Linked DNA regions of Homo sapiens. The protein of the gene in region 1 interacts with the protein of each later gene in a pairwise test. Each region holds a gene or a part of one and is shown on either strand. Other genes may lie near its edges.

The links.
Region 2: the proteins of LGI1 (region 1) and CLIC6 interact in a two-hybrid assay, tested with the Homo sapiens proteins (one large-scale study listed by BioGRID and IntAct).

What each region holds. Positions count from the first base shown.
Region 1 is NC_000010.11:93,760,659-93,764,470, forward strand, and holds part of LGI1 (leucine-rich glioma-inactivated protein 1 isoform 1 precursor), read left to right. Parts: intron 1-2,431; exon of another isoform or gene 2,432-2,518; intron 2,519-3,125; exon of another isoform or gene 3,126-3,240; intron 3,241-3,812. UniProt on the Homo sapiens protein: Regulates voltage-gated potassium channels assembled from KCNA1, KCNA4 and KCNAB1. It slows down channel inactivation by precluding channel closure mediated by the KCNAB1 subunit.
Region 2 is NC_000021.9:34,667,679-34,672,088, forward strand, and holds the start of CLIC6 (chloride intracellular channel protein 6), read left to right. Parts: upstream 1-1,315; 5' UTR 1,316-1,710; coding exon 1,711-3,084; intron 3,085-4,410. UniProt on the Homo sapiens protein: In the soluble state, catalyzes glutaredoxin-like thiol disulfide exchange reactions with reduced glutathione as electron donor. Can insert into membranes and form voltage-dependent chloride-selective channels.

The DNA.
Region 1 (3,812 bases):
GATGCTGGACAATGTTATAGAAATAGTTACCGGCTGCTGCAGGGTAATGTGATTTCACGTATTTAGAATCACAGAGGGAAGCCAAGGGACTGGTTTTTAAATAGCCCAACCGAGTGTGTGCCATGCCCGTGCCCCATGCTCCGAGTTCCTATGGAACATTCCAGCCTTTATTTCTAAAAGCAGTTCAGGTTTCAGAAATAACAAAAGGCGAGTAATTCTCTCCCAGTGTGTTCTCGGTTAACTCAGATTGGCTAACCTCAACATGGTAGACTTGTGCCAGAGCTGAACTTATGCAAAATTGTCAGGGGCCAAAGTTTGTCCCTAATCTCCAGGACCCTGTGCCTGAAGACTCTGCTCTCCATCCTTCTTGCCCAATATTCTCTGCTTCCGCCTATCCTCAGGAAAAGGTCTAATAAACTCATGTGCGGTGTGTAGGAAATATATGAGAAGGCTCTGAATATGAACTATGAAACGATCATAACAATTGTGGGAATGCATGGATCCCACAGAGAAAGATCTCTTCTGTGAGACAGGGCTGTCCAGTGCCCTGAAAACCCCATATGGGCTGCCAATCCCCCTTTGGAACATGAAGACCAATGGCATTGGACCACCAGATTAGGCCTAGATCACACAAGCCATTGAGGTTTGCAATGAATTCCAACAGCATTTGTGATTGTGAATTGCCACACTCACCCATCATACACTGTGAAGAGATAAATTTCAGAATCAATTCGGCTTGATTGACGTAGGAAGACAGTTCGTTGGTTTCTTGCTTTATTGTTGGGAAGGGTTAAAGCAAATGTCCTATTTCCATCATCCACCCTAAAAATCTGATAATGTCAGTATGCCCCCAGATGCTTTTTCAGAGCTTCTGAAAAAGCTATGATGAGAAGTACTTGTTGAAATGTCAGTCTGGGGTACTGAGGAAAATAGACATGGTATCTGAAGTTACATGCAGTGTTTGGGAAAAGATCCTGGTAGGCCATGGCTGGCAGTTTGTGTTGGAGAACAAGAAAAACAAAAACCCACATTCCGTAGAGAAGAGAGAGAAAGAATAAAATTATTCAATAAAAATTCATTAGATTAGTTGTAATATACATTTTTTAAAAATCTCATTTATGGGTTTAAACATAACAATAAAAACCTTTCCCAAGCAAATGCAATTTCATTCATGTTTTACATAGGGCCAGTTTCGAAACATAACCAATGACAACGATTATGCGTTCTAGCTTGCTTTTAGTGATAGAAAGTGGTACTTTTAGTGAATGCAGTTTAGGGAAATGTGTTTTCACACATTACAGCCCTGTTCCTTCTCAACTACAGACTGAAGTCCCCAATGATATGGGCTCATGATGGAAGTGAAATTCAAATTTAAGAGGACAAAATGTGGCCACTTCGCCACCCACTTATAACATATTTTAATTATAAACCCCTGTAATTCCCGAGAGTGTTCTATTTTCAGGGAGTGATTTCCAGGGTAGTTTTAGTATCATGCTCAAATAAAACAACACAAAACAAAAACACTGCACGTAAGAATCCGACATGACCAGAAAAAATTTCTTAGTATTCCAATTGGATGTGGTCTTGTTTGAAAGACAGAATTGATCTTTCAGGGTCAAAGGAGGGGAATAGCGTTATTTTAAAAATTAATCCACAATCAACACATAAATACCTGATCCATAAGAAATTAAAAACTAAAAACAAATGGAAAAGCAAAAGGCATGAACAAAAGAAGGAATAAGTCCATCCTTACTAAGGCTTTATCATTTAGTCCTTCAAAATATGATCTGTCCAGGAAAAAATATCCATGGCCTCCTTTACCTTTAAAGCAATTGCTACCTTTTTCTATTCCTCCTTATATTAGAAGCCTACAATTTAGCAGTCTTCAATGACCACTCAAGCCAAACCTATCAGCCAAGGGTGTTTTTGGAGGAATTATTAGCTGGTTATAGGTGAGCACGTTTTGGTTTGTATCCAGCTGATGCCCCCATGATGGACCAAAAAGCAAAAATTTCAGTCATCTAGGCTGTTTTGTCTACAGTTTGCCCAATGATCCATAGATCTAATCTTTAACTTTTTAATTAATTACTTCTTTTTTGTTTTTACTTTCTTAAAAATAATTTTAAATTTTATTTTAGATTCGAGGGTCCATGTACAGGTTTGTTACTTGAAGTGAATTAATTCTCGTAACTGCACAAACTAGCACTCACCACAATTGTTTTCTCTGAAAGTGTATTTCATCCTTTCAGTTATTCAGGCAAGAAACTTCAGAGTTACCTGACCCCTCTCTTTCACTCTCCACTTCCACCTGGACAAGCATCCTGTCCGACAGCATGAGAATCTGCCTCCTCCTCTTCACCACAGCACCACTGCTTTCACTGAGGCTGCATTTCATTCACTGTTTCACAGGCTGTGGCAGGAGCCTCCACGCCTCACTGTCTGCTTTCAGTTCCCATCTGACCCATCTCCATTAGCGCTGCCTTTCCTGAGACACAGCTCTCCGTGCTTTCATGACTCCCTAGAAACAGAGAAAGTCCAGACACCTGAGCTGGCATCCATAGTGTTTGGCCCTTTCTATTTGTCCAAGGTTATCACTCACATCATTGACTCTACACACACAGACACACACACACACACAGACACACACACACACACGTGCCCAAACAAGTTCTGCAGGATCTCATTCTATGACCTCTGTTGATTCTCAAATTCTCTAGACTTTACTGATGTCTGGCACTGTGTGCCATTTGCTAGAGTTATGGTGCTTGTATCTGCCTTGTGTCTTTCATGGAGGATCACCAATAAACTGTGGTCCCAGAGAAAAACCCAGACATGTTTTCCCATGTATTTGTTGAATCCAGTTTATGTTTCCATCGATTTTGTGCTGAAGACTCCTGTGTTACTCTCAGCAGATAATGCTGGTCATGTTCACACTCTTTCTGATGTTTGGTGCACCCTATCTGAATTCACGTGGACTAATAGTGTGGAGGTCTGGGAAGTGAGCCGAACTAAAAAAACTCGAGGAGATATTTGCTCATGAAGTTGTGAATTCAAACTTCCTCAGCAGAGATTTCCAGCATACCAGATTTCAAAGGCAAAGCATCTAAGCCTTTCCTTAGACCCACCGCTCGAATCTCTTGTGTCCCACGCTGACTTCACATTTGGTCTCCTTGGTTTTTAGTCAGACTGCAGAGGCCGACTAGTCTGTCCTGGGAAGGGTAAGATGCTCCTTTATCCAGCCTGACCGGACATCCAGAGGGAAATGTTAGTTAAGCATTATTAATATGAAAAGAAAAATCAATAACACAAAGATAATTTCCTTTTTGATTTAAGTACTGCTTAGCCAAAATAAGTATTTATTTATTGTATAGTTGCAAGCAGCAACAAAATGAAAACAAAAGCCTCCCATTTTAGCAGACATGTTTTGAGGCTCTACTGGGTAGCAGGTACAATGTTGGGCTTTGTGAAGGACACAAAGATGAGTGACACGCTGTCACTTTTCACCCTGATATGGCAGCTCCAAGCTGGTAGTGATTCTTGATATGGTAAATTATACTTTGCCTGTATTTGAATGCATTAGTTTCATTTAAAAAATTATTTTTATGTAAGTAGAGATGAGGTCTTGCTATGTTGCCCACGCTGGTCTCGAACTCCTGGCCTCAAACAATCCTCCCACCTCACCCTTCCAAAGTGCTGGGATTATGGGTATGTGCCTGGCCTCCTTAAATGTATTATAAGGTAGTCTTGATAAGCATTCTCATTTTGTTCAAAATGAGATTCAGTTGATTAGTGATGATGGTGATGCTTGCTGG
Region 2 (4,410 bases), on another chromosome or scaffold:
AAGATAAGGGTGATGGCTGCTACCTTGCCCCGGTGAATGCAGCAGGATTCCTTTTCTAGGTGCCTAGAGCTTTTACGGCTCACGTGCATCTCTGGCTCACCTGTGTGAGTGTCATGCTTTGACTAGATGCCACTTTGTGGTGATGAAGCTTCTGGCCTGTACCTACCCAGACAGAGCACAGCCTTGGAGAAAGGTAGCATGAAGCTGAGTGTCTCTGGGCTCCTGTCCTGTCATCCATCAGTGATGAGCAATGGGAAGTAGAAGGAGACACATTATGTTCATGGCCAAAGGTGTGACCCCAAGCCACATCAAAGGCACACCCAGCTCTTTCAACGAAAACAACCTTCTGTGGGCATGAGGGGCTCATGTATCTTAGGCCAATATCAAAGCCATATAAAGCCTGATGAATCAAGTCAGTCTTGAGCTGGGATCCCCGTTCCACCACATTTACATAGTGCCACCTTGGGTAACCCAGTTTCTTGGTAACCCACTAGAAGTAGCCTGGCTTATAATAAACTTACGACATACTTTTCACCATAATAACTTCCTTTTTAAAGTAGGTATTGGGTCTGTGATCCTGGGAGAACCCTAACCCAGGGAATTCCATAGCTCCCCTCTTTCACATCTTGGATTTTCTTTTCTCCACCTCCAGATTCCCAAGCTCTTAACTTGGAGGCAGAAGCACTGGTGGTGAGTTTAGAAATCTAGGAGAATCAGCAAGATACACAGACTCTTACAGTCTTAAGAGACCCGGGAGATGAAGGTGTAACCTTTTTCCAGCGCAGGGCTCCCACGATCCTCCAGACAGGCCCGGAGAAGCGGACCCTCATGGACAACAGCGCCCATCTCTGGTCAGAGAAACTCGACTGGCTCCTTGTGCGTCTATATGAGGGGCCTCTGGAACCTCTCCGGGGGCCCTGCAGACATGGGAAGGCGGCCAGCGTAGCCTCCCCAGCTTCTTCTCTCAGGGATTTACACCCTTGCTCTTGGACATCAGGCACAATGTGGACATCTTCAGTTGGGTACCGGGGGAGCTTGATGCTTCACTCCTGGGGTAAGGTGGGGATTAGGTGTTTGGGTGTCGGGGTGTGTGTTTGGAGGGGGTGATTTAAGTGACTCTGGAACTTGAAGCCATTCTAGAGAACAACACCCAAGCGGCCAGGAGAACCAGAATCTTTTCATCAACATCCACAAGGGTCACGAGAAAGGCTGTCATTGGCCAAGCTCCTAGGCTACCCAAACAAAGGAGGGAGGAGGGGAAGACAAACCCCGCCCAAGCCCCAGGGGATGGAGTTGGCACCAAGGACTTCTGGTCAACCCCAGGACAGCGGACAGCGGGCCGGGCACTTCCAAAGGCGCAGGAGCGAAGCAGCCCTCTCCAGCCGTGCACTGCACCTCCGCGGCCCGCGGGCGAGATTGGGGTCCCGGTGGGAAGCAGACGCGCAATCGGGGAGAAGCTCCAGCAGTGGAGGAAGAGTCCAGGGAGTTTCAGCTGGGCAGAAGGGGCGCAGAGGCTTGGGGCCAAGCGGAGTTTGCCCTGCGGGTCCTGCGCAAGGCCCCAGTGCCCCGGCTAAACCTTTGCCGCAGGATCCCGGAGCCGGCGTCCTTCAAGGAGCACAGAGGGCCCCGTAGCACGCCCCTTGCCCAGCGCCACCGACCCTTAAGCAGCGTCAAGGAAGGAGTCCCGATCAAGGACAGGGATCTGCGGCCATGGCCGAGGCCGCGGAGCCGGAGGGGGTTGCCCCGGGTCCCCAGGGGCCGCCGGAGGTCCCCGCGCCTCTGGCTGAGAGACCCGGAGAGCCAGGAGCCGCGGGCGGGGAGGCAGAAGGGCCGGAGGGGAGCGAGGGCGCAGAGGAGGCGCCGAGGGGCGCCGCCGCTGTGAAGGAGGCAGGAGGCGGCGGGCCAGACAGGGGCCCGGAGGCCGAGGCGCGGGGCACGAGGGGGGCGCACGGCGAGACTGAGGCCGAGGAGGGAGCCCCGGAGGGTGCCGAGGTGCCCCAAGGAGGGGAGGAGACAAGCGGCGCGCAGCAGGTGGAGGGGGCGAGCCCGGGACGCGGCGCGCAGGGCGAGCCCCGCGGGGAGGCTCAGAGGGAGCCCGAGGACTCTGCGGCCCCCGAGAGGCAGGAGGAGGCGGAGCAGAGGCCTGAGGTCCCGGAAGGTAGCGCGTCCGGGGAGGCGGGGGACAGCGTAGACGCGGAGGGCCCGCTGGGGGACAACATAGAAGCGGAGGGCCCGGCGGGCGACAGCGTAGAGGCGGAGGGCCGGGTGGGGGACAGCGTAGACGCGGAAGGTCCGGCGGGGGACAGCGTAGACGCGGAGGGCCCGCTGGGGGACAACATACAAGCCGAGGGCCCGGCGGGGGACAGCGTAGACGCGGAGGGCCGGGTGGGGGACAGCGTAGACGCGGAAGGTCCGGCGGGGGACAGCGTAGACGCGGAGGGCCGGGTGGGGGACAGCGTAGAGGCGGGGGACCCGGCGGGGGACGGCGTAGAAGCGGGGGTCCCGGCGGGGGACAGCGTAGAAGCCGAAGGCCCGGCGGGGGACAGCATGGACGCCGAGGGTCCGGCAGGAAGGGCGCGCCGGGTCTCGGGTGAGCCGCAGCAATCGGGGGACGGCAGCCTCTCGCCCCAGGCCGAGGCAATTGAGGTCGCAGCCGGGGAGAGTGCGGGGCGCAGCCCCGGTGAGCTCGCCTGGGACGCAGCGGAGGAGGCGGAGGTCCCGGGGGTAAAGGGGTCCGAAGAAGCGGCCCCCGGGGACGCAAGGGCAGACGCTGGCGAGGACAGGGTAGGGGATGGGCCACAGCAGGAGCCGGGGGAGGACGAAGAGAGACGAGAGCGGAGCCCGGAGGGGCCAAGGGAGGAGGAAGCAGCGGGGGGCGAAGAGGAATCCCCCGACAGCAGCCCACATGGGGAGGCCTCCAGGGGCGCCGCGGAGCCTGAGGCCCAGCTCAGCAACCACCTGGCCGAGGAGGGCCCCGCCGAGGGTAGCGGCGAGGCCGCGCGCGTGAACGGCCGCCGGGAGGACGGAGAGGCGTCCGAGCCCCGGGCCCTGGGGCAGGAGCACGACATCACCCTCTTCGTCAAGGTAAAGCTCGCTTCCCTCAATTCTTAGGACGACCCCCTTCCATTCGAGGTCTTGGTCATCTCAGATCCCAGAGGGACGCGCAGGGAGGAACCCTTGGTGGTATCCTGATTGTCATCAGGCGCTTCCATGCGCGGGCGGTAGGCGGGACAGCCGGGATTTCCCGGAGAAGAGTTTCCAGGGCATTTGCGGGAGGACTCAATGGTTTGGAAGCAAAGACTTTGGGGGTGGGGGCGACGGGGAGTGCGATGGGGGCCAATGAGGATGTGGGGTTGTGGGTTCAGCATCCCACTGTCCTTTGACCTGAACATCCTAACCAGCCCTCCTAGTCAGGAGGTTATTAACGAATTAACTAAAAAGTTAAAAAAAAAAAAAAAAAAAAAGAAGAAGAAGAAGAAAAGCAACGCACCCTATTGGTGTTCAAAGGGATTTCTGCCAAAGGAAGCTTTAATACTTGAAGCCAAAAAACGCAGACAGGTAGGTTCAATGTGGGAGGTGCCTTCCAGACTCAATCTCGGAGACCCAGAGCTGGTCAATGTTTTCAACTCCAAAAAGGTATTCCATTTTGGTAGAATCAACAATGTACGTTTAGGGGGGAATGGAGCCTTATTGACATAATGTTTTTTGAACGTTTTAACATTGAATTTGGAAGAATACAAGATGCCGGTGACTTGAACATCATCTGCTTGTATGTCATGTTTTTAACCTCAGTTCACATGGGAAGAGAGCAAGGATTCTGTGAAGGAATCTGTAGAGACACAACTGAGGAAGTTTTGAATTTAAACAGGAATTATTTACAAGGCATGAAAAATGAAAGAACAAAGCTCAGCAGCAGTTCACACCAGGATCTTTGTTTAAAAAGCCTTTTCTGAGGACCTTTGGCCAGACCCAGGAAAGTTGGAGATAATAAGGTCAAGAATGTGCATTTCATGTTGAATCATAATCCTTCAGAAATACTTCCAGGCTTATAGAAACCAGTTACCATCTAAATCTCTCTGGCTGAAATGCAAGCACATTTTAATAAGTAAAAGGAAATGCTCCCAATGTGATTAACATCAGAATTTTAAGAATTGTTTGGGTGGCGAGGGGCTTGGGAAAGAAGGGGTGTGTGTGTGTTTCTTCCCTAGTGAGAAGGTGCTGTTTCTGGCTTTTTTCAAGACCCTGGGACATAACCTCAGGACACCAGCCCCTGAGAGGCTGCTGGGAAGAGCTGGAGCGCAGTGCTGCTGTGTGACCCCAAATCTGCTCCTCTCCATCACCTTGGTTTTAGAAATTTCCCGTTGCTGTGGTTGTAAGGATACATGATTCTGGCACACGGCCTCTTAGCAC